Linked DNA regions of Homo sapiens: region 1 is linked to region 2. The links come from fine-mapping of genetic effects on gene expression. A gene starts in region 2. The other region holds a variant in brackets. All regions are shown on one strand. Distances are from middle to middle.

Region 1 (10,502 bases), 260 kb before region 2:
ATCTTTGCCAATATTGTAAGTGGGGCAGGAAAATAAATTATAAGCAAGCATGCAGTAGAGAATTCATGATATGCCAGTTCCCCTCTGCCCAGACCTTATAAAGGAAACCATCTCCTTAATTGGAATTATGTTTGTGGCCTGAAGGGGTGCCCCGTCTGACTTGATATTTTGGGAGCGTGGTCTCCTAAATGACCTTTTTCTGCCTTCCTTGGGACATCACACAATGGGAGAGCCAGGGCCTGGGGAGGATCATTTTCTCTTAATTGGTGTCCTGGTCATCATGCTGGCTTCACTAAAAATTAGTAGGCCACCCTCTGCTCAGACCTGAATGCCCTTGTTATTAACTGCATGATGTCCCTCAGACATCAGGTTCCGTCTCCTTCTGGGAGTGGCAACGTAGAGATCCAGGGAAATGCTCCAGGGCAACTTGACTTTATGAGTTTTGTGTCGAGACCACTGGCTTCCTTCACGCCACAAGTATTATCTGCCTAGTTTCCCCGTGCCGGGCCCAGTCTGCAGAGACGGTGAAGACCCCAAGCCCTGAGCTCAGTCTGTTCACCATCTATCACACCACTAAAGCCACACAACTGGGGGCTTCTTCAGAGAGCAGGTGGGACCGGTAAGGGCAGGGCCTGCAAGGGTGATGTTCTGGCAATTGCCATCCTGTCTTCCTGAGGTTCCCTCTGGATCAGTGGTGAGAGCACAGGTTTGAATCTAGCCCCCACCTCTTCCTCATCCAGGGACGGTGGGAATGTGACCCTCTCCAGGCTTCAGATCCCTCATCTCTAGAATGGGGCCATGGGTTGTTCTGAGGACCTAACGAAATTAGCACAGTACCTGGCCTCTGGTAAGTGAATAATAAATGTTAGCTGTTACTTTCATCACCTCTCTTTAGTTTTGATGAATTTGGAAATTCAGGATGGAAGTGTCTACCTGCTTGACATATCTCAAAAATTTTGCTCCCTTCCTTCAAATATTCAACGTTCAACTAATATTTATTGACTTACTATGTGCCAGACCAGTGTTCTAGGCATGGGGCTCTAGGAGTGAACAAATGCAATGTAAAAATTCCCTGCCCTCTGGGGTTGACACTCTGGTGGGGGTGTGAGAACAACATCAGTGGGAAAATGGGGTCAGATGGTGAAAGGTGCTCTGGTCACCCCAGCTGGGCAGTGCCAATGGGAGACACCAGGCATGGCCAGCCTCGGGAAGGGTGTGGGGCCCAGGGCAGACCAGCGGGGTTCCTGGTGCTGAGGTTACCCTGTGTACTATTAAAGCAGGTAATGGCTCCCAGCTTCGATGGTGGGTATATGGACCCCGTTCAGGGATGGGGGCTGAGGAGGGCACAGGAGGACTGAAGACAGGGCTCTGAGGAGCCACCTGCTCTCGGGTCTAGGTCAGACCCCGCATCCTGATGCGGGTCAGCTGGCTCATGATGCCTGGCTGGCTCCTGGGACTGAGAGGAGAGTGTGGATGGTCTTGTCTCAGCTTTCCGCCCACTGGGGATCCACCTCAAGCATCCCCTGGCTGTGGGGTTGAGGGGTGGGCCCAGAACAGAAGCTTCATGTAAGAAGGTGACTGGGCTGGAGAAAAGGTGGCAGTGAGGTTTAGCCCCATCTCCAGCCCCTGGGACCTGTGGTAAAGATGTCCTCACCCACACAGTGGGCTCAGGCAGGCAGGAAAGGTTCCTGGAGCTTGGCCTCTAATATCCATTCTTGAGCTCTGCCGTGGAGAGAGCTGGTCACTCGAGCGCAAAGGAACCACTTGTGGGTTTTCTCCCTCAGCCTGGGCTTCCTGCCCATTCCTGGCTGTCCCAGCCTGATGTGTCCTCCAGGGCCCCCTGACCTGACCCTTGGCCCATCTCTTCTTGACCTTGCACTGTGGGCAGGACAGAGAGGCCAGGGAGAGTGTCCAAGAGGGACAGGATGGGATGTCAAGGTGACGGGGCGATGATGGTGCAGAGGGCAGCCCTTGGGATGAGCTCCTGGGAGCTCCTGGATGGGATTCAGGCTCAGCAGGTTGGGGTTGGAGCGGGTGGGGAATCCCTGGCATTTGGCAATTGCCCAGCACAGTGCCTGGGCATGGTAAGTGCTCAGTGAATATATGTTGTATGAATGCACAAGTGAATGAATGTTTGGCTATGCGGATTGCAAAGGTGTCTTTCTGAAATGCCTCAGGGATATCTTTATAAATTATTGCAGCCATAAAATGCTGATATTGGGGGTGCAGTGAGCAGCTCCGGACTGAGGATCAGCTGCATTTACCTGCACTGACATCTGTATGGCAAGAGAAGGGGTGTTTGACTACAAGGGAATGCATGCTTCTCTTTGTGTGAAAACAGAATGAGATTTTTCGTATGCATGATCTCATCTCATCCCCTAACAGCTGTGAGAAAAGTAAGGGTAGTTCTTGTTTGCAGAGAAGAAACCAGAGGCCCAGAGAGGTTAAAGGACCGATCCAGTGTCACACAGCTAGTTAGTAGCAAAGACATGACTTGAACTCTGGCCTTTTGGTTTCAAATCCTATGTTATTTAGAAAGAGACAAGGAACATCTTCGTTAGCCCCCCCATGACTAAAAATAGGAAGCTTGCCTTGTTGTGTTTGAGGAGAAGATGGTGTGAGTGGGTTTTGTGGCTGACCGTTTCACACCCAACATTTCATCACAGAAATGCCTGGGAAAAGAAAACTCCTAAGAAAAAAAAAAAAAGGAATGAGTGTTGGACATGTCCCTATGACCTGTTTGTCATGGCATGTGTGCTCGGCGCCTTGGTCATCAGGCTTAACTGAACTTCGGAGAAGGTTCTGTCCAGGAGTCTCATTTTACTGGGGGCTGAGGCTTAGGAGAAGGAAGCAACTTGTCCAGGCCAGGCATTCACTATGGAGGAGGCTGAGACTCCTGCGCCCTCGGATGCACACCCTGGGCCTCTGTTCCAGAGCTGTCTTGGCTAGCAAGTATCAGGCCCTTCTCCCTTCTCAGGCTGGTCAGAGGTCCAGCTGCCCTCTGGAGTCCCCAGAGTCTCCCTTCCCACTGTGACAGCATCGGCTGTCTCTCCCGGTCTCAGGTTGGACAGTCCTGGGAGAGAGAGGGTCTGAGTGACTTCATTCTGTCACTTCATTCATTAGTGACTGAAACAGGATTCTGTTAGCTGACTTCTGGTAGGAGCCAGGTTGGGAAGCCGCTCTGAGGATGCTGGGAGGGCCAACAGCTGCAATTATTATTATTATTGTTGTTGTTATTATTATTATTATTATTGAGACAGAGTCTTGCTCTGTCTCCCAGGCTGGAGTGCAGTGGTGTGATCTCGGTTCACTGCAACTTCTGCCTCCTGGGTTCAAGCCATTCTCCTGCCTCAGCCTCCTGAGAAGCTGAGACTACAGGCTTGCACCACCATGCCCAGCTAATTTTTGTATTTTTAGTAGAGATGGGGTTTCACCATGATGGCCAGGCCGGTCTTGAGCTCCCGACCTCAAGTGATCCACCTGCCTTGGCCTCCCAAAGTGTTGGACTTACAGGCGTGAGCCACCACGCCTGGGCTTGCAATTAAATTAGGGTGCTGCACCTGGGAGGAGGAGGCTGTGCTAAGATAGGAGCTGAGGATGATGGGTAAGAATGAAAGATCCCAAGAACTGGACAGTGTGAGATTGAGGAATGAGGAAGGCCAGGGCTTGGTGCTGATGTGGAGGGAAAGAAGCCTCAGGTCTCCATGGAGAACAGCGACCAGTGATGCGGTCTTCCCTTTAGCGGAAGAGGGGCTGGTTTAATTTGCATAGCATTAATTAGCAAGAGTATCTAATTAGGACAACCATTACAGAACCACAGTCATAAGCCGATGTTGAATATCAATCAATTTTGGAGCCTCTCCATGAAATTGAAGGAAAAGTTGACCTTATTAGATAGAAAAGATTTCTAAATCAATTATTTCCCAGATTGAATGCACAAAACATAGTGATGTCAGGCAGGCACATCAGACCTTAATTCAGAAATTATGAACTTCAGATACTATCACCTTTTCCCTTTGGGGGTTTCAGCCAGTGACAGAAATCGTGAATGGACCACATATGTGTATAAACACACACACACACAACCATACACATATACTCTTTGTGGGTAACAGCTTGGTTGGGGAAGGAGCCTGCGCATCATTATCTCAGTTAAGCTAATATTTCAGTTTGGTTCAGTGCCCCTCCAGGTCTCTGTCTGTAAGCATAGCTTTCTCCTTTTTGCGATGACCCAAACAATAAAATACATTTAGAACTT[C/G]AAAGTCTCTGGGAAGATATACCATAATCATTACAGTTCTGGCCTGTTTTTGGAAGCTACAAGGCAGGCCAGGAGAGCAATTTATGTGGCTGGCTCAGAAGCTGGGGAACACACTCCATCACCCTCTGCACAGCCTCAGGGGAGGAAAGGCTGGAACAGCTCTAAGAAGCCTCGCTGCAGATATTGGAGGGCCAGCAAGGCGTGGCCGCCAGAGCAGGTGGGGTGCTGGGACACAGGCGGGGCAATGGAACCTGGAGGCAGACAGATCTGGGTGTAAAACCTGGCTTTTGCAAATCCTGGCTTTGCCATGGTGAGAAGTTAGGTAACATGCCCTTGGACAAGTTACCTAACTTCTGAGAGCTTAAGCTTTCTCCTCTGTAAGAGTGGGTTGACAATGCCATCCTTGCATGGTAGGCCCCTATAGATGTGCTTTATTACAGATTATTGTCATCAATGAGAAATCACAGATCTGTGAAGGGCTGGCTCGTGGCCTGGAGCAGAACAGGGACCACATGGATGGAGGCAGCTCTTAGGAATTCTATTGACATATTTTCAGTCTTTTTCTACACTAAAAAAGCTTAAAAATGAAATAATTGGAAATATACTACATATCGTTTTGGGGTCTGAGTTTATCACTTAATAGTCTATCATCAACCATTCTCCATGTCTTCAGATATTGTCTGCAGAAGTGTTTTTTGGTTTTTTTTGTTTTTGTTTTTGTTTTTGTTTTTGTTTTTGTTTTTTTTTAAGATGGAGTCTCGCTCTTCACCCAGGCTGGAGTGCAGTGGCACTGTCTCGGCTCACTGCAAGCTCCGCCTCCCGGGTTCATGCCGTTCTCCTGCCTCAGTCTCCCGAGTAGCTGGGACTACAGGCGCCTGCCACCACGTCCCGCTAATTTTTTGTGTTTTTAGTAGAGATGAGGTTTCACTGTGTTAGCCAGGATGGTCTCGATCTCCTGACCTCGTGATCTGCCCACCTCGGCCTCCCAAAGTGCTGGGATTACGGCCGTGTGCAGAAGTGTTTTTAGTGGCTGCGTAGTGTTCCATCACTGCCTGATCTCAAATCTACTTAACCACTTGAAAATTTGTGGGCATTTAGGAATAAATGACTTTAAAACATGACTCTCAGCTGGGCGCGGTGGCTCACGCCTGTAATCCCAGCACTTTGGGAGGCCGAGGCGGGTGGATCACTTGAGGCCAGGAGATCGAGACCATCCTGGCTAACACGGTGAAACCCCATCTCTACTAAAAATACAAAAAAATTAGCCGGGTGTAGTGGCGGGCGCCTGTAGTCCCAGCTGCTGGGGAGACTGAGGCAGGAGAATGGCATGAACCCGGCAGGCAGAGCTTGCAGTGAGCTGAGATCGTGCCACTGCACTCCAGTCTGGGAGACAGAGCAAGACTCTGTCTCAAAAAAAAAAAAAAAAAAATGATTCTCATCAAATGGGATATAATTCCTAAGCATTCCTGTGTGTTAAGGATTGTTACTCTGTGTTGAAAAGTTCTGAGTCACGGGGCAGAAGGGTTGACCAGTTGACCGCTGGATTCCCTCTGTTCTACAAGCCCCTTATTGGTCCTCAGATAGGAGTGAGTGGGGGCAATGCGTGTGGCAGGTACCCTATCCTGGGATGTATGGCAGCCCGGTGTCACTGCCATCCCCCAAGGAACCATATCAATTTCAAGCTTCACTGATGTTCAGGCAGCAAAGAGAAGATGCTAATTCAACATTTTACCAAATAGAAAACATTCCTAGTTCAGCCAGACTTCTTTGACATGTTTTCCAGCTATTAAAAGCGGTTGGTTAATTTTTTTTATTGACATGCGATGGAGAATGCAAAGAAATCTGTAAGATATCGAGAGTCCCTGTTGATCCAGCACACAGCTTGGTCATCCCACAGGGCTGGAGCTGGCCAGGGAGGTTGTACTGGCCAAAACCAAGAAGCAGGTGGGAGTTGCCTGTTCATGTAAAGGTTTTGAGCTTTAGGACAAAAGGAAGAGGCCCAAAGGAGAGAGCATCTGGCCCCTTTCCCTTCACTGCTTCCTTTAAAATGATGGAAATAGACTTGGATTCTGATGTCAATTCATTGCTGCCAAAAGAAATAAATAAGGGGCTGAAATGTGCAGCTGATCCCAAATCCTTCCCGGGGAGGTGTGATGCTCCCAGATGCTTTCAGACCCCTTTGAAAAGAAAGTTATGGTCATTTCTGGATGGAAAACATTGTGAGCTGTCCCCAGTTGATCCCCAGTTGATTGATGTAGGGAGGTTTGTTTTACCCTAATACAGTCTGAGTGTTCCTGAATTCACCATTTGCTCTTTTCAGCCCCATCTGGGTCTTGTGGTTGGGTAGCATTTCAGGCACCAGGAAGTGCTTGTGAAGATCAAAATATTTTTGAGGGCCAGCACTGTGTTCTGTCCTTCTCTGTGCTTATGTTGGACCAGAACAGCACCAGCCCTCCTTAGGCCCCCATACATGTGTGCTGAGTAAATGATTGCAGGCTGCTCTTATGGAACTGTGGAACATGAAGAGGCTAAAAGAAGACTGGCTTATGTGTAGATCATCTTATGCATAGCAAATAATGGAGACCTTTTCCCATAGTTGGACGACCCCATGCAATGTAGAAAGTCAGAGTTAGTGAATAAGCCAGATCAGAAGCTTCTGGTGTATATCACTGTATATATAGAATCTAGCACACTGTTGGATATCTAGCAAGTGCTCAGCAAATGAGAAGTGGTTGAAATTTTTGTGAAAGAGTGAATGAATTAGTTACTTTATTAGTTTTCTTTGTATCTCCAGTGGGCCTCAAGAACTGTACCAATTAAATGAATGGGGAGATTAATAGACATCAGGGAGAGCACTTTCATTCCATCTCAGCACACAGAGTGGGGCCGAGAGCATGGACCTGGGCACTTGGAAGTCCTGGGTTCGAGTCCCAAGCCCTCCTCTCATTCTTGTGGTTGCCATATTGGACATACCGCCTCACCCCACAGATCTCAGCTGCTCCTCACATCTGCCTCTGAAAGCTGTCTCTGACCCATCCACAGTGGCCTCCCTCCTTTGAGCTCCCCTAGCTCTACTGTAGGTTTCACTCTGGCAATTGATCATACTCTACCTTACCTTGTTGTCTTAAGATGTCATTTAGGTCTATTTAAATGGATGCTTCCCATGTTTCTAAGTTGTTTCCCATTGGAGAGTGTGCCTGAGGGCTTGTGGGCAGTGCTCTGTACTGCGAGTCAGAGGCCTTGACTTTGAATTCTGGCACAAGCCACCCACCCTCCTCTGGGCCTCAGCCTGTAATATCTATAAGGTAAAAGGCCGAGGGCTGTTGTGAGGATGGATGAGAACAAATACGTGAAACCACCTTGTAAACTGTAAGGTGCCTTCCAGAAATCAGGCATCATTCTTCTAATGACCAGCTCCCTGAGGAAGGGAATGTTTCTTTTGTGGCGTGCACCACTCAGGACCAAGTGCAGGGCCGCCATACACACAGTCACTGCTTGGAAATGCTTCCTGGATCTCATCTGCTGCCTTTGCTCAGGGCTGTGTTCCCGCCTTCCTTTGGAACTAGGAGCTATCTCTACTTCCAGCTTCGAAATGCCCAGAGGTGCACCAAGTTCCAACCCAGACACCCTGATTTGTAGAGGATGCAAAGTAAATGATAAGGGTAGTTAACACTTACTTGGCCAGGCACTGTTCTGGGCACTTTGCATACATTAACTCCTTTATTTTCACAACAGCCCTGTGAGGTAGTCCAGAATATTATCTCCATCTGACACAGGAGGCATGCTGGTGCAGAGAGGTGGAGTGGGCGTTCCAAGGTCAGGTAGCCCTAAATGGCTGTCGCAGGGCTGGGACCCAGCAGTCTGGCCCCGGAGGTCATGCCCTTAACCACACTTCTCGGTTTCTCTAAGCTGCCCTGGGACTGAAAGGCTGCAGTGGAGGCCACGGGGCTCACCTCCCCCACCTAATCCCTAGCAGGAGGGACCATCAGGGTACTTCTCCTGCCAGGACCCCTCTCTGCTCCTGTGCTTCCTGGCTTCTCTCTCCAGTAGCTCCTCTGCCGTCCCTGCCTCCCTCCCCTGCCCTTGGCCTAAGCCAGGAGATGAGAGCAGCTGCCGGGACATTCAAATTCATTCCTGAAAGAATTCTGCCTCCGAAATCCTCTGGTTTGGGTTTAAGAGAAAACAGAGGCCCAAGCTGGCGTAATATTGATGCCCAAACCATGTAATAGCGGCACAACAAAGAATGACGTTCATATGAGTTATGAGCATGGAAGCACAAATTCTAAATAACACATCAGCAAACTGAATCTAGCCGTGTATAACAAACATAATACATCATGCCCAAGTAGCGTTCATCCCAGGAATGCAAATACGACTTAGCCCGAGAAAACAGAGGCTCAAAGGGGGCAGCTGCTGAGACAGAGCCGGCCCGGGCACAGCCCAAGGCTTTTGTGGGGCTCAGGCTGACTTTGTGCTACACCTGCTCCTAGGAGGGGCTGGTAACAGTCCCTCCTGTGTCCCCACCCCTTCTCTTTTACACAGCCGCAGAATAAAGTGAGACGCTCCTTTCCCCGCACTCCCTAATTCTCTCTCTCCATTGTTCCTGCAGGACTCCATGTTTTCGTTGGCCCTGAAATGCCTTATCAGTCTGTCCACCATCATCCTTTTGGGCTTGATCATCGCCTACCACACACGTGAAGTCCAGGTAGGTGCCCCCACCTCACCCCTTCATGCAGCGGCTGATCCTTTGGCCTTGCTCTGAGCCGAGCCCATCCCCACCCCCAAAACCCACTCCCTTAGCAGCTACTTGGGTGATTTTACAAGACGGTGCCCAAGATCGTGGCTCTTCTCTTCTGGTTTGGACCCAAATGGGAGAGGAAACTGCGAGGCCGCCCTGTGGCTTTCGAATAACTGTTAAGTTGTCTTCAAAGTGGGGATCCCAGAGGCAAACATAGGGCTTCATGTTGAGCGAGGCTGCCGTATTCGGGACCCTCACTGAGCACCATCGGACCGGGAGAGCCCCTGATGCATTGCTCTGCCTTTTGTGTCTCTTGTCCTTTCTGAACTTGGGCCACTCAGTTCATCCCTTCAGTGAGGCAGACCTGCCTTGTGTACCCCCACATATGCTGCACCAAACTCCACCAAGGAGTCTGCTTTTTGTGAATGGTGTGGTCTTCACCCTTGTGGGTCTAGGCTGGGGGTGTCATTTTCTAGACAGAGTAAGAGTCTGCTGTGGCCGAGAAGGCCTCTGTTTCTTGCTGCCCAGGAGTGACTTGGTACCCAGAGAAACATTGGCTGGGCCTCCAGGGTGCACTTCCAGTTTGGCTGACATAGGGAGGATGGTTCAACCCGGGCCAGGAGGGTCAGACAGGAGAGAACAGATCTGAAGCATCTTCTGGTGACAATGAGCTTCCCCCAGCCCCCGGCCCTTCAGGCTGACCTGCACTGCTGTGGACCTGAGAAGTTCTAAACTATCCAGATGTTTTTCCTCATGTGCATGTGAATCTGGAAACCATCCCGGTCCTTTGGCTGGAGGAGCACAGATAGATTCACATCTGGGCAGCAGGCGAGAGATTGACGAAGACCAGAGCTCAGAGTCAGAAAAACTGGGGTCAAGTCTCGGCCATGACCTTTTTTCTTGGTGTGTCTTTGGCCAGCCCTGTGACCTTCCTGGGTCTCGATCTTCTCATCTAGAACATGGGGCCTTTATTCCAGCTCTGCTGAGCTGTTGTGAGGATGGGATGAGGAGCGCATGGGAGAGTGCTTTGTGAAGCGCTATTTAACAACACCGTTCAAATCCAGTCCCATTTGTTACTCGGCATTTTCAGGGTGGAGCAGCAGTGCGGACGCAGGTGGGAGTGCCTCCTCCTCTTAGAGAGCCTTGGCTTTTTGTCTGAAGGTCAGGGGCCACTGTGGCTGGCTGGGACATGGAAGCCTTGGCTCCAGGCCACCTTGGCAGGGCTGCATTCTGTCAATGACTAGAGGATACTGACCTGGATGCTGGGACTCTTCAGCCTCTAAAGGGTTGCAGATGCTTGGACAGGGGCTGTGCCTGTGCCAGATGCCACCAGGCAGCTTCCTTCATGGAGTCTGAATTGGACAGAGTGGTGGACTTTAACTCAGACCATTGTCCAGTCAGCCCCAGAAAGGAGCCAGGAGTACAGGCAGGGAGGACTAGGGCCACGGAATCGAGACAGGACAGAAGTTGACAGTCTGGGCTCCGGGCCTGGTTCCACCCCACCCA
Region 2 (8,445 bases):
ATGGAAGGGGACAGGGCATGGTCCCATCAGTTGAGGAAGGTGGCTTTGTACCCTAGAGATAAGATGGATTATTGCAGGAGACAGGATAGAACCTGGAGGAGAAACTGGGACCTTAAAGTTCTTTGATCCTTCCCAGGCTTCCAGGAAAGCCTGTTCCTGAATCAGTTGAGGCGCTGGGGGCTGTCAATACTTGTTTGTATCCCCACCACATCATCAAATACATACTGGGAGTCCTAACCGGCTGGGAGTGGGCTGGTCATTGCCCAGGTCACCTTGGCTGTCCACGCTGTACCTCACTGGTCTGGGTCTGTCTGTCTAGGTAGTGACTACATATCTATTATAAGTCCCTCCCCTCCCACAGCATAAGTAATTTCTCTTATTTTCCCCAGAACCCCTTCCCTCCCTGAGCCCTCCAATGGTCTCCCCCAACCTTCCCATTGCACCTACTTGTTGTACAGGACCACATCTGGGAGCCAGATGTGTTTGGAAGGGAGCCGAACTTTCTTCATGTTGTCAAACTCTTCAGGCTTCCAGGTGAGGCGATAATCTTCCCACTCCTGGGAAATGAGAGAGGGAGGCAGTACCAACTTGTGCCCTGGGTGGGGCTCAAGGTTAAGGAAACGAACTAGAGGGGGCCCATATGGCTTGAGGGACCTTTTAAAAGCCAGCCTCTTCCCCACAGTGACTTCTCTGCCCATCAGGTATGGCTCATGTGGTACTTTCTCATTTAATTTGCACAGCTAGGCCAAGGTACAGTATTAGAATCTACATTTACAAATGAGAAAATGAATCTTGGAGAGTTTAATATGTTTAAAGTCACAAGGCTGGTGAGTGCCAAGATTCAAATCCAATTGTTTAGGACTCCAAACTCTATACCTTTCTGCCTGTTTTGAGAGATTAAGAAAGAAAAAAGCACATGGGGAAAAAGGAGGAGAGAGAAGGCCAGGGGTGTGGGTGGAAGAGAGCACTTACGCTTACCTGGGTCAGCCAGACATTGGTGGTCATGATCTGCTCCCGCTCATGCTGCAGGGAGGAAGAGAGGCTGCCGAGAAGGCCCCTAAGCCTGTGGGGTCACTGCCACCACCCAGGGTCCCTCTCACACCTCCCCAAGCCTTGGAAACACCAGGGGAGGAAGCACACAAGCATTAACACATTTTGGCGGGGCTGATTTCAGTAGCTGGGCAGAGAGCCTGGGACCTCTACTCACCACACTGATGAGCTGGGCCAGTGACACCATAAGCTGTACTGTCACCAGCTCAGAGCCATTGGTGGCTGGGCGGATAAGCTTGTTGTAGCGGGAAGGATCCAGGAGATGCTCCACCAGCCGCTCCTCTGTATCCGTACCCCACACCCCTGGGCAGGGGAAAGGCAGGACGAAAGTAAGCAGGCAAGGAGAGCCCACCCAGCATCCCACCCTCCCCAGGCAAATGGGACAATCCAGGCCCAACCAGTATCTCCCTACATCCCTAAGGATACTGCAAAATGCTTAGATTAACCCCAGGGAGGCCCCAGATTAATGTCTTCATAGAAAAGCCCCTCTCTGAGACCACTGACCAAAGAGTCTACACAGCTCCACAGAGATGACTTGAGACTAAGAACCCACTCTGCAAGGATTCATGGAGACCTGCTCTTCCCCCAAAGTCTCAGAGGGCAGTTTGAGATTTCTGCTTCCATGGCTTCCCCAGCAAATACCTATGACTCAAGGGAGGTTTAGCAGGGCAGTGAAGGTGAACAGTTATTTGTCCCAGTTATTTGTGTCCCACCACACACATCCTTTCTCCTGCCGATTGAGGAGAAAGTGTATGTGTGGTGGGACACAAATAACTGTTCCCGTTCACCATTTACATGTGCAAATGACATTATGTGCCTCACGTAATGACATGTGACTGTGGTCACGATGCCATCCTCCCCTCTCCCTAAAGGCACTGGGTTGGAGTGGAATAGCTGGGCTGCCTAAGCTGTGGGTCAGGCATATATGTAGCCCCAAGTTTCACACACACAGCAGCCCACCCCTAGAGGTGGCCTGTAGGTGTGGAAAGCTCATTCAGTTGTGCATTCCCTTTGTACCTGCCCCTCCCCGGCACACTGCATCCCCCTCTGCAACTCTGCACGAACACACCCCTCCCCATCCCCTCAGAGAGTTCCTTCCTAGTCCTCAGCCTGGCAGAGCTTCTTCCCTTCCAAGCCTCCTGTCCCACCCTACAGGAGGGTTGAAAAGTCCGTTCCGTTTTCTCCCCTTCTCTGCCCCTGAGGGGTGACGAGAATCTGGAGCCCAATGTGGGGGATGGGAAACGATGGGGAGCCCGGGGAGGGGTGCTGGTCCAGGTACCTTTCTTGAGATAATGTTTCACAAAAAGTCAGATGGCATCTTAGCGCCCTCAGAGCCGGCCTCCTGCCACCCCAGGACGCCTGGGGAGATCCCCTGCCTCCTTGCTCTCTGTGCCTGCACCACCCCTACCACCGCTGGCCAGGTTTCCATCTCTTTCTTGCTTCACTTACTCCTTCGAGTATGTCTCGTTCCCAGTCCAGCCTCCCAGGTGCTCTCTGCAGTCCCGGGGGGCTCTCCCCTAACCTCCAGCAGACTCCCCCACCTCTAGGGAATCCCTTCTTCCACCTTCCGGCCTAGCAGGGGTGAGTCAGAGGGCGGCGAGTCTTGGGCCGTTGGCTGGGGTAGGAGAACCTGGCCAGTGCCCGTCTTTCCCTTACCTGAGCACAGCCGGAGGAGGCCGAAGCCAAGGAGCAGCGCCACGGGGCCGCAGCGCCGGGCCATGCCGCGGGCATAGCTCGCTGCCTCGCCTACACCGGCTGGAGCGCGCCGCCGGGGGGAGGGCCGCGGGTGGGGCGCTGTCCGTGGTGCTGAAGCCGCGCCCGCCTGGAGCTGGGTCCAGGTGGTGCCGGCCGCCGCGGTGGTTCCTGGGCCTCAGGGAGCCGGCTGCGAGGAGAAACCAGCTTCTTGCCTATCCTGGTATGAGCAGGCGGAGGCTTTTCCGGCTGCTCTTCCAGGGAATACAATTGGGACGGTGAGGGGGAGGAGTCTGCGCCCCGGAGGCGGAAACGCTGGGTCCCAGGAAAAAAAAGGGGGGTCCCCGGCTGGGATAGTCTTCGATTGGTTCTGCCGTGGTAGGGTGTGCGTGAGGTGGAAGAAGGGCTGTTCCTCCACGGCACGGTGGAGGAGTTCTGAAGTCCTAAAGTTGGGGCAGGACCTGCAGCATGGTCGGAGAAGGGGCAAGAGGCCCGGCGGGAAGAAGCAGCAAGAGTAAGACAAGTAGGTCAGGGCCTGCTTAGTACTGAGGGCCAGACGGCCAGAACGAGCGTCGGGAGACAGGAGGAGTGTCCGGGGTTTTCGCCCTCCTTTTTTCTCTTACCAAACCCAAATGGTCCTGCTCCCCAGGTAGGCTGAGGATACAGCAGAGAAAATGTGTTTAGCCCCTTAAAGAGATAGGGGGCTGTGGGTTTGCTATTTTTAAGAAAGCAAACGGCTTTGGAGTCTAAAAGGCTAAGCTTCCTGCCCTCCCACTGAGGGTCTACCTGAGGAGGTCTAGACTTGCCTGCAAAGAAGGTAGACTTGAGGGTAATAGTGGAAAGACAAGTAGCCCCTATTCATCGGCCTTCCTCACCCCCTTCTCTTGACTCCAGCTGTTGGCTTCTGTGTGACTAGGGAGATCAGAGACCACTCACAGAGGCCTGATCAAGAGAGAAGCTAACACAAAGGAGACCAAAGATGAGAACCCTGAACTCTTAGCCCCTTTTTTTCCTTCAGTGGGTTCGTTGTCACTTTCAACCAAAAGATTCCTGACTAAAGCAGACTTAGCATACAGCAAGGCTCTGTCCTGTTTTGTCCCTGCTTACTTCAACCTCATCTGGGTCACTCCACCCCCAGCTCCACATTCCAACTATTGGCAAGGTCTTCAGGATCCTTGAACATCTTATCCGTCCCATCATCCCCCACACTTCAGGGACTTAAATGCATGGTTCTCTTGGGCTCTTTTATAACCCATGTTCCCCTCATCACCTTCTACTTAACTTTGAGCATTTGGCAGGAATGTCAATTCCTTAAGGAAGCTGCGCCTGACCAAGAACTAGATCAGATACTTTGTTATATGTTTCCAGAGCATGTCCAATGAATAAATGAATCCACCTGAGGCAGTGGCTGCCTCTCTAGATTATGAATCAACACAGTGCCTGGCATATTATTATAAGGGCTCAACAGGTAAGGAAAAGGGCTAGTACTGGACTGACACTTTTTAATGTGTAGGGAAAATTTCTCTCTAAAAGCTCAGCTAGGGACCAGGAGAGGTGACTTAAGCCCGTAATCTCAGCACTTTCAAAGGCTGAGGCAGAAGGATCACTTGAGCCCAGGCGTTTGAAACCAGCCTGGGCAACATAATGAGATCACGTGTGTACAAAAAGTTTAAAAATTAGTCGGGCATGATGGTGTGTGCCTATAGTCCCAGCTACTCGAGAGGCTGAGGTGGGAGGATCACTTAAGCCAGGGAGGTCGGGGCTGCAGTTTGGGGCATGATGGCGCAACTGCACTCCAGCCTGGGCAATGAAGCAAGACCCCATTTCAAAAACTAAACAAATAAATAAATAAAAGCCCAGCTAAAAGCAACTTATTGACCATGTCCCCAGGTCGTGGAATTAAGGGAAGAAGCAGAAAAGTTCTAGAAGAGGACTGGAGAAGTAGAAGGACTACAGACCCCATGATGCACATGGAAATGGGCGTAAATCTGCACGACTTGTTCCGGGGCATGCGCATGTGTAAGCGCACAATAATCTCTTAAGAATTAAAGAAACCTTGTAACAAAGAAAAGTAGTGAAGAAAAGCCTTAAGGAAAAGAGAAGGAATGTGTGTAGTCCCTCTGCTTAAGGAAAAGATAGAGGGTGGGAAGATCTTCCTTCAACAATTTAGATCAACATTTGTTAGGTATATGTGGTTTGCCAGGAAACTGCATGTGTGTTGTGGACCATATGTGTTGAAGATGCAGTGATCAAAAAGACTTAGTCCCAGCTATTAAGGAGATCACAGTTTGGCAGCAAATTATTATAGAATGTGATGGCTGTTCTAACAGACATATAAAGGAAGTGCTATGGATGGAAGCACAGAGGAAGAAGAGGTTAATAGTGTCTAAGAACCTAGAAGGGATGAAGATGAAAATTGAGATTTGAAAGGTGAGAAAGTCATTAAGACAAGGATGACTTAAAGGTATTCCAAACTCCTAAGAAATACAGGGAGTTTTGGTGGATGCAGAATGATTGAGGAAGGCTGTGAAAGTCTTCTCTTAACAAAAATCTCTTTCTGTAATGGTTGCTTGTTTATGGGATGAGAAACTAGGGGGTCATTTGCTTGCTTAAAGCCTCTGGCTTCTCCTGATGCAACTTCCAGGCCAGTCTACCTTCTCTTCTCAAATCCCCCAGCTTTTGCTTCAAGTTTACTTCCAGCCTGGCAAGGAGTGAGTCTTCTGAGCACAACCACCCAGTGTCCAAGCAGGGCGGGAACACCTCCTTCCTCATCTCTCCCACACATACTCCTTCCATACCCACCAAGAAGAAAGGCAGCCAGGAAGAGTGGACAGGTCCAGAACCACAGAGGGTGATGAACAGATGCAGAAGTATCAATCCTGAGGCTAAAGAGTAATTGGGCAAAGTTTTGGTGAGACACTCCCATTGCCACTGATGATAAGGAATGTTTTCTCTTGAAAGGCTTAAAATTGGTGGAAAGCGGTGGCTCACGTCCGTAATCCAAGCACTTTGGGAGGCTGGGGCAGGTGGATGGACTGAGCTCAAGAGTTCAAGATCAGCCTGGGCAACATGGTGAAACCCTGTTTCTACAAAAAATTTAAAAATATTAGCCAGGTGTGGTGGCACGTGCTCCCAGCCTGGGCAACACCTCCCAGTACTTGGGAGGCTGAGGAGGGAGGATATCGTGAGCCGTGGAGGTGGTTGCAGTGAGCCGAGACTATGTCACTGAACTCCAGCCTGGGCAACAGAGCCAGACCCTGTCTCAAAAAAAAAAAAAAAAAAAAAGGTTGGGGGGAAAGGCTTAAAATCAATGTTATTGTCCTTTATTTAAGGCGTTTTAGGCTGAGTGTGGTGGCTCGCACCTGTAATCCTGGCACTTAGGGAGGCCAAGGCAGATCACCTGAGATCAGGAATTCAAGACCAGCCTGGCCAACGTGGTGAAACCCGGTCTCTACTGAAAAATACAAAAATTAGCCTGGTGTGGTGGCGCATGCCTGTAATCCCAGCTACTCAGGAGACTGAGGCAGGAAGAATTGCTTGAACCTGGGAGGCAGAGGTTGCAGTGAGCCGAGATTGCACCACTTCTTCACTCCCAGCCTGGGCAACAGAATGAGACGCCATCTCAAAAAAAAAAAAAAAGATGTTTTAAATTTTAAAATTTTTATTACAAAAGTAATACATGTATTCGTCATGAATACCAATTGGAAAACAAGTCAGCAAAACATAGTAAGTACAAAATGGATTCATACTCCTACCTCCCAGGAAAAAAATCAGTGTTAGCAATAATATATTTCACACACACACATACCCCTCCAAATTTATCTATATATACTCGGATATAACATTCATACAGCAAAGTATATACAAGTGTACAGCTAAATTTTCACAACATAAACACAGCCATATAGCCGCAATTTAGATTTTTTTTTTTAAAGAAACACACATAACTAATATCCAGAAGTCCCCATGATGACCCTTCCAGCAGTTACTCTCTCTTCTTCAAAAGTAACACCTTGGGGCCAGGCGTGATGGCTCACACCTGTAATCCCAGCACTTTGGGAGGCTGAGGCGGGTGGATCACAAGGTCAGGAGATCGAGACCATCCTAACACAGTGAAACCCCGTCTCTACTAAAAATATAAAAAAAATTAGCCGGGCATCGTGGCGGGCACCTGTAGCTCCAGCTACTCGGGAGGCTGAGGCAGGAGAATGGCGTGAACCCGGGAGGTGGAGCTTGCAGTGAGCCGAGATCGCACCACTGCACACTCTAGCCTGGGCGACAGAGCGAGACTCCATCTCAAAAAAAAAACACCTTGGGAGGAGGGAGGAATGGGAGGTGGTGACTACTTACCTGGAACTAGACAGTAGTAATGGTTATACAACTTGTGAATGCACTGAATGCCACTGAGTCATACACTTTAAATTAGTTAAAGTGGCAGATTTTATGTGTAATTTTACCACAATTTTAAAAAAATGACTGAAGGTAAAATAAATAACTACTGTCCTGTCTTCTAATAGCATAGATCGACTTTGCCTGTGGAACTTTTTATAAATGGAAAAATGGAATCATCATCTTCAGTGTGTGTCTGGTTTTTTTTGTTTGTTTGTTTGTTTTGAGATGGGAGTTTTGCTCTTGTTGCCCAGGCTGGAGTGCAATGGCATGATCTTGGCTCACTGCAACCTCCGCCTCCCGGGTTCAAGCAATTCTCCTGCCTCAGCCTCCTGAGTAGCTTGGATTACAGGCATGTGCCACCACACCCGGCTAATTTTTTTGCATTTTTAGTAGAGATGGGGTTTCACCATGTTGGTCAGGCTGGTCTTGAACTCCTGACCTCAGGTGATCCACCTGCCTCGGCCTTCCAAAGTGCTGGGATTACATGTGTGAGCTACCATGCCCGGCCTGTGTCTGTTTTTTTAAAAAACATGTTAGTGAGAATCGTGAACACTGCTGAATATAGTTGTAGTTCATTCATCTTCATTGCTGTGGACTATTCCATTGTATGAATACACTATCATTTATCCGTTTCACTATTGATGGATATTTTGGTTGTTTCCTATTTGGACTATTAAAAAATAATACTGCTGTGAACACTCTTGTTCATACTTTTGGTATACAAATACAGTCATGTACCATGTAATGACTTCTCAGTCAACAAGATTGCAATATACAAAGGTGGCCCCCATAAAATTATAACACTGTATTTTTGCTGTACCTTTCCTGTGTTTAGATAGATACATGAATACATATTATTGGGTTTCAACTGCCTACAGTAATTGCAGGAATTCTAGTGGGCACGGGGAATGCAGCAACTGTATTCACTACAGTATAACATGCAGTACAGGTTTGTAGCCTAGGAGCCATAGTCTAGACCCTATAGGCTAGGTGTGTAGTAGGCTACACCATCTAGGTTTGTGTAAGTACACTATGATGTTCACACAACAAAAAAACCACTGAGACACATTTCTCAGAATGTATCCCACCATTAACTGACACATGACTGTATATGCATTTCTGTTGGGTACATAACTAAATCGCATATTTTTTTTTTAATGGAGCACACTGTAACATAGCTTTGTAACCACCTTTCTTTTTTAAATCTTCAGCTCACTTCAGTCTAATCTTTTTTCATTTACTATTTCTCAAACAACTCTCCATACCAATAAGTATTTTTGATAACTATTTTTCACAGCTACAGTTTTCCCT

Evidence for each region.
Region 1: its variant is fine-mapped to the expression of CHRNB2 in cerebellar hemisphere (GTEx, PIP 0.99).

The regions. Positions count from the first base shown.
Region 1 is chr1:154,820,550-154,831,051 of GRCh38, reverse strand. It overlaps KCNN3 (potassium calcium-activated channel subfamily N member 3), which reads left to right. Exons shown (of 8, transcript NM_002249.6): 2 at 8,868-8,963. Among named protein-coding and RNA genes, the nearest start is that of KCNN3, 44 kb to the left of the region's middle. The variant C/G (reference allele first, on the strand shown) is at 4,259.
Region 2 is chr1:154,562,370-154,570,814 of GRCh38, reverse strand. It overlaps CHRNB2 (cholinergic receptor nicotinic beta 2 subunit), which reads right to left and starts at 3,037. Exons shown (of 6, transcript NM_000748.3): 1 at 2,707-3,037; 2 at 1,208-1,353; 3 at 979-1,023; 4 at 448-557. The coding sequence starts at 2,770. It overlaps LOC107985206 (a long non-coding RNA gene), which reads left to right and starts at 3,098. Exons shown (of 2, transcript XR_001738238.3): 1 at 3,098-3,391; 2 at 4,633-6,027. RefSeq lists a silencer at 2,737-2,866.